2 separate regions of the Homo sapiens genome follow, and region 2 is reported to be linked to region 1. Evidence: microRNA targets listed by miRTarBase, many of them from high-throughput screens and not tested one by one. Region 1 holds a microRNA gene; the other region holds the end of a gene's coding sequence.

Region 1 (3,000 bases):
TTCCTGGCACAAAGTTAAGTACATGATAAAATGGAACTATTAATATTAGTAACCCAGATAGGTTCTGGGCACATTAGCAGGAAAGGTCTTCTTAATTTAAGTAAGGTGCTAAAAGCATCTAATTTTATTAGGATTGTTATGAAACAAAAACTAAATGTGCAAGAAAATATATTTACCGTAGCCTGGGGAAAATTGTCATGGTTTCTCTTTTCAAAGAATTCAATTTGGTAAGAAACAGCCTTCAATGGTCCATGAAAAGTGAGAAGTGTAGGGAATAAGAGGCTCTTTCCTATGTTTGCATTTCAGGCTTGCCTTCTTACTTTTAAATTTATCTTTACAATTGCCTTCCTGCTGGGTTTGTGTCTTCCTCAGTTTAGGGAAGGTGACAAGAAAAGTCCTGTTTGTGTGTAATTGACATGAAAAATGGTAGGCTTTTAACTCAAGGAGGCTCCAGACAACAGTTTGGTTATTAAGGAAGGGGAGGACCTAGGGGAACAATTGTTTCTGGCCTCTCTTCTTCTCAGGCCTGGAACAATCTTTCATTTACTATATTCTTGCCACAAGAGCACAGTCAATATTAAATTCCAAAAAAAGAAAAATCCCTCACAGAAACAGCTGTGTTCAATATACAGCCAGTTTACTCTGGCGAATTGCTAGACATGGAACAGTTTTCATTTCTTTTTGTGTTTATCCCTGATAGTTGTCTTGTAAAATCTGCCTTTTGTAAATAAGGGAAGGCTGGTTTTAAACAGCTTTGACTAATATTGGTAGTTGGAGTATTCAGTATTACAGAGTTTTAGAGAACTAAAATAAACCTGATGGAAACACACACATATTTCAAAGGAAACATTTTAAGGTGTTCTGGTTCCATTTTTTCCATTTTGTATGTAAGTTGGATTATGATACTTTTATGTCTACATTGTCTCTTAGTCAAAAATGTGAGAGACGCCATTCAAGTCTAGACTTGGACCCTACTGAATGCCTTGTTCATGGACACCACACAATCTCGATGTAAATGTTTATTGCTGATCTGTACAAAAAGGGGAAAAGTAGTTTTTTGAACAACAGAAAATACCAGTTAATCTCACTGGATTCAGGAATTATAGCAAAGCAATCCAATAAGTGGATTCTCTGAGAGTAGGAACTCAAGTGTGTTATCTCAGTTTTTATCCAGTTTCCAGCACAATGCTGGCACCATTTAAATTCTCAGTCAATGCTGGAGAATTGAAAAAGAATCCTCAAAATTTGGATGACAAAATGACAAAGGTGTCCCCTGATACAGAAATCTGTCCATGGCAGAAAGATTAGTGATTTGAGATATGGTGTCATCATTGTAGATGATGGTGTCCCATTAAGCATGTTTTCACTAATTACAATAAATGTTGAAAGAAGGAGTTTCACCTAGTATCCTTACTAATATCAGGGAATGGCCTGGGCTTTGGGGAGATGAGAGTCCTCTGCTTTCAGTTTAATAAAGTAGGATATTTGTGTTTTTGTTTATATTGTTAAATACGACGGGTTAGCTTGTCACCTACATAATATTGTGTGGCATAAATAAAGGTGAATTCCCAAATATGTGCTCCATAGTGTTGACAATGAGTAAATGTTCATTCTAATAATTGTAAGGGTTACCTCCCTCGCACTCCTTGAAATATCTTTTTATTCAAATTTTTCGAGCTGGAGGTCATGTGTTACATTTCCTGTTGTGTAACATGGCCTCCCTCTCTTTCTCTGTCTCACTTTCTCACTTTCTCCCTCTTTCTTTTACTCTCTCTGCCTCTACCTCTGACTCCTTCTCCTTCTTCCCAGCTTTGCATCAGAGCCATGTAACTGACATTTTCTTGGTTCCCTCAGGACCTGTCATAATAGCAGGCAAATATTAGATGATGATTCAATGTTTAATGAATTTTTCTTGAATGTATGTATGTTGCTTCAAGTCATTCATGCACACATTGAAGAGGACAGACAGAGCCCTGCTGAACACCACTAGCAAATCTCTCTCTAGTAGACCACAACAAGTCAATCTGTGCTCTTTGATTACAGTTGTTCAACCAGTTACTAATCTAACTAATTGTAACTGGTTGAACAACTGAACCCAAAGGGTGCAAAGTAGAAACATTTCATTGTGAAGTCGGCTGGGGACAAAGAAAACACCACCAGAACCCCCTTCAATATGCAAAGGGAAAATTCCTTCTCAAGTACAAGCTACATGGTGCCTTTTTGAATTATCATCAATTTGTAATGCTGTATCAATACATATGTATTATCTGTTCTTTTGGTAAGGGTTGTTTGAAGTATAAGGTACTTCCTCCATTAAGGTGATACTAACCACATGTTAATTATTGTCTGAAAGTCACCAAGGATATGAATAATAAAAAGTTTTAAAAATAAGACCTGTTTCTTTTATTGATAGTTGTACCTCAAGGCTGAAGTGAGGTTTGCAATGTAAGTTGTAAAATGTGATGTGAAATAGACAATTCTTTGTAGTTTATATAAGGCAATATATCCATGTGCAATTATGGTCAAAAACAGCAGACTTTTAAGTGATTATTCTAAAGTTATTTTTTTCCAAAATAACTTTATTACTCTTGATATCATACCATATTCACAAAACATTCTGGTAAAGCTATTGCTCAGTGTGTTGTCCCAGTGAGACTCAGGGAACATTTCTATGTGACGCTTTAGGATTGAAGACAGTTCCACGTTTTCTGAGTAATTCCAAACTGTGTAAGAGATTATGTTCCCTTTGCATATTGGCTGCTAAGAAGCTCACTTTTTCACTTATGATACTTGGATGCATTTTGGCTTTTTGGGTTTTTGTTTTTTGGTCTAATTTTTTTTTTTTTTTTTTTTTTTGAGACAGGGTCTCACTCTGTTGCCCAGGCTGGAGTGCAGTGGCACCATCATGGCTCACTGCAACCTTGACCTCTCCTGGCTCAGGTGATCCTCCCACCTCAGCCTCTCAAGTAGCTGGAATTACAGGCATGTGCCACAACACCC
Region 2 (3,109 bases), not on the chromosome of region 1:
ACGACATTCTAGTCAAAGTCTTGGTAATATAACCAATGTTTTCAAATGTATTCTGTCATACAAAGAGCAGATTTTTATTGAACTTGTGCAATAACTATATTACCATACAATATAAATATTCATGAATAGTTTCCCAAGTCTGGAGCGACCACATAGGGAGAAAATGTAAATGTCTCAATTTTTGTTCACAAAAGTATATTTTATCAAATTGCTGTAAGCTGTGGATAGCTTAAAAGAAAAAAAGTTTCCTGAAATCTGGGAAACAAGACATTTAAAGAATCAGCAAAATTTCAAATAAAAAATTATGAAAATATTATCCTCATTAGTTCATTTAGTCCCATGAAATTAATTATTTTCTCTGCTTGATCTTGGTGGACAGTTTCATGAAGCTGTCAGTTAGTTCATTAAAGTTTTGGAAATTCTCAGACAGTGCAGTGGTATCAGAAACTTGTATTCAAGAGTACAGGTCAGAGTCTTCTTTTCTTTTCTTTTTGAGATGGAGTCTTGCTCTGTTGCCAGACTGGAGTGCAGTGGTGCGATCTGGGCTCACTGCAATCTCCACCTCCCGGGTTCAAGCGATTCTCCTGCCTCAGCCTCCCGAGTAACTGGGACTACAGGTGTGCGCCACCAAGCCCAGCTCATTTTTGTATTTTTAGTAGAGATGGGGTTTCACGATGTTGGCTAGGATGGTCTCGATCTCTGGTCAGAGTCTTTTCTGTAAATATCCTTGGTAAAGAAGCAATTTTAGACTGTAGCTGTTGCAAATGCTTTAAGGAAGAAGCAAAACAACTGTCTGTGAATGACAAAGATTTAAAATGAGTACAGTTAAAAATCTGATGATAATTTATTATAATAAGAACACAACTCACATAGAAATTTAGTTACTTCTGTGGCATATGACATTATGGCTGATAACCAATTAGATTTCTAGAATTTCTTATATAACTTTTGGAATACATCAATAACATACTCATAAATATAACTTAGAGAAGGTTTAACATCACTAATGATTTGACAGTGCTTCCCATATAATTTAACATATCAAATAAGGTGGCCTTTCCATTCAGCTTCTGTTTCTCAACTAGATTCCTAATTTCCTGGTGGAGCCCATTAATGAACAGGGCCAACAAAGTATAGGCTTACGTATGTTGAAAAACTCCACAGGCAATTCTTTTTTTTTTTTTTTTTTTGAGACGGAGTCTTGCTCTGTCGCCCAGGCTGGAGTGCAGTGGCACGATCTCGGCTCACTGCAATCTCCACCTCCCGGGTTCAAGCGATTCTCCTGCCTCAGCCTTCTGAGTAGCTGGAATTACAGGCACGTGCCACCATGCCCAGCTGATTTTTTTGTATTTTTAGTAGAGAGGGGGTTTCACCATGTTGGTCAGGCTGGTCTTGAACTCCTGATCCGTCCGCCTTGGCCTCCCAAAGTGCTGGGATTATAGGCGTGAGCCACCGTGCCCAGCCAGAAAAACTCCATGGGCAATTCTAATCCTCCTAGCTGAAAGTCATGGGTTTAGCCCCAAGTCCTACCTATTTAGAACAGGGTTTCTCCATCCTGGCTACACATTAGTAGCATCTGGGGAGGCTTAAAAATTACGAATGCCTGGGTCCCACTCCAGACCAGTAAATCGGAATTTATCGGTGGGACTTAAGTATCCATTTTATAAAATGTTTCTGAGTGATTCCAATGTGTAGCTATATTTTCCGTCAGATTTCTCTAATTTCTTGTGATGTTCACTCCTTTCTATTTTGGCATTATGATTATTTTTCAGGTTTTGTCTCCTGTTATAGAATTAAGGACCTTGCCTTCTTCATTTCTGTATCTGTTATGAACATATGAATTGGTTATCAGGAAAAGGTTCTCAGTCACAGGCACAGTTGTGTCCTGAGCTTAAGACTCACAGGTTAATGCTACAGTCTTTGTTCTTCATGAGGTCAGAAGTTGCTTGTGATTAAGGGTGTGGGTAACTCCACAGTGCAGACAGTGGAAGGAGGTCACCCTGTTTGACATGTTTTTAGGTGTAACACCGGAACTAAGAATTCTGTGTACATGTGGGGTGGAGAGGCAGGGATGTGTAGGGAAACAGATCTATTAGGATGATGGAATTATATAAGGGAGTGGTGGTAAAGGAAGTAAAAAAGATTAGTAAAGAGAAGAAATGTGAACTTATCTAATACACCACAGTAGGCCCCTGTGTCTTCTTGAGTAGGCGAGTGAACTAGATTTTAGGAAGGTAATGAGGCAGTCATATGCAAGAAAGATTTCAAAGACTGGCAACAAGGGGTCAAGCAGGACTTTGAGCAGTTGTTGAGGTTTATGGGAATGGAGAGAATGACACAAGTGTGAGATGTTAAAAAAGGACCAAGAGGCTTTGACAATGTATTGAATCTGGGAAACAAATGAGCAGAGGGTGGGGATAATTATATCTAAGAGACAGTGGCGTACAGGGAGCATGAAGACCAGGGAAGAAGAGACCTGCAGGAATTAGTGCTGAGAAGCAGGAGCTTGGGGGTAGGAGGAAGAGATCCAGTCCCAGATACAGGTGAAGAAATCCCTTCCCTCTCCCAAGCATGGCAGTCAGCACTGCAGGAAACAGAACAAGAGGAAAGGCCATTATACCTACCAGTCTTCCTGAAATGAAGAAACTACACCAGGGCTGCTATATCAGAGCAACCCCAACCAGCACTCCAATCATGATGCCGACAGTGGCCCCAGCTGAGAGACCAGGAGAAGTTCCAGATGCTGAATCGTCCGTCATGGAAAGAAAAGAGAAGGAATGAATGTGATGTTATTTTACAGTGGGGTGCCCCAGGTTCCAGCTCTCAGCATGAAGCAGTCTCTACTTGTTGCTTCAAGGAATGCATTAGTTTTGTGGGAAAGTTGCAATTTTTTCTCTCTCACTGTGTTGCTAGTTGGTGATCAGTCTTCTGTCAATTCCACCCTGGCCTGTCTGCACTCAGCTATTTCTGAAGGCTTTGAAATTTGAGAAAGTCTGATTGCTATTTTTGCGTGTCATTAGAACTTTCTATCTTTTCATGGTTGCATCTTTTTCTCAGTGTCTCAGTTGTGGTAGGCATAAATAAGTCTGTTGGGTCTCTGTGGCAGGGA

The links. Region 1 holds the annotated microRNA hsa-miR-582-3p (UAACUGGUUGAACAACUGAACC, at 2,075-2,096, shown strand). A microRNA usually pairs through its seed, bases 2 to 8, with sites in the 3' UTR of a target mRNA and lowers its output. Matches are read on the target gene's strand: a 7mer-m8 pairs with bases 2 to 8, a 7mer-A1 pairs with bases 2 to 7 and ends in A, and an 8mer does both.
Region 2: the mRNA of CEACAM5 is a reported target of hsa-miR-582-3p. Seed matches in the 3' UTR shown: 7mer-A1 at 603-609.

What each region holds. Positions count from the first base shown.
Region 1 is chr5:59,702,726-59,705,725 of GRCh38, reverse strand. MIR582 (microRNA 582) reads left to right here and starts at 2,023; the gene lies at 2,023-2,120. The region is part of intron 1 of PDE4D (phosphodiesterase 4D); the gene reads left to right.
Region 2 is chr19:41,726,868-41,729,976 of GRCh38, reverse strand. CEACAM5 (CEA cell adhesion molecule 5) reads right to left here. Exons shown (of 10, transcript NM_004363.6): 9 at 2,625-2,743; 10 at 1-793. The coding sequence ends at 2,661. Among named protein-coding and RNA genes, the nearest start is that of CEACAM5, 20 kb to the right of the region's middle.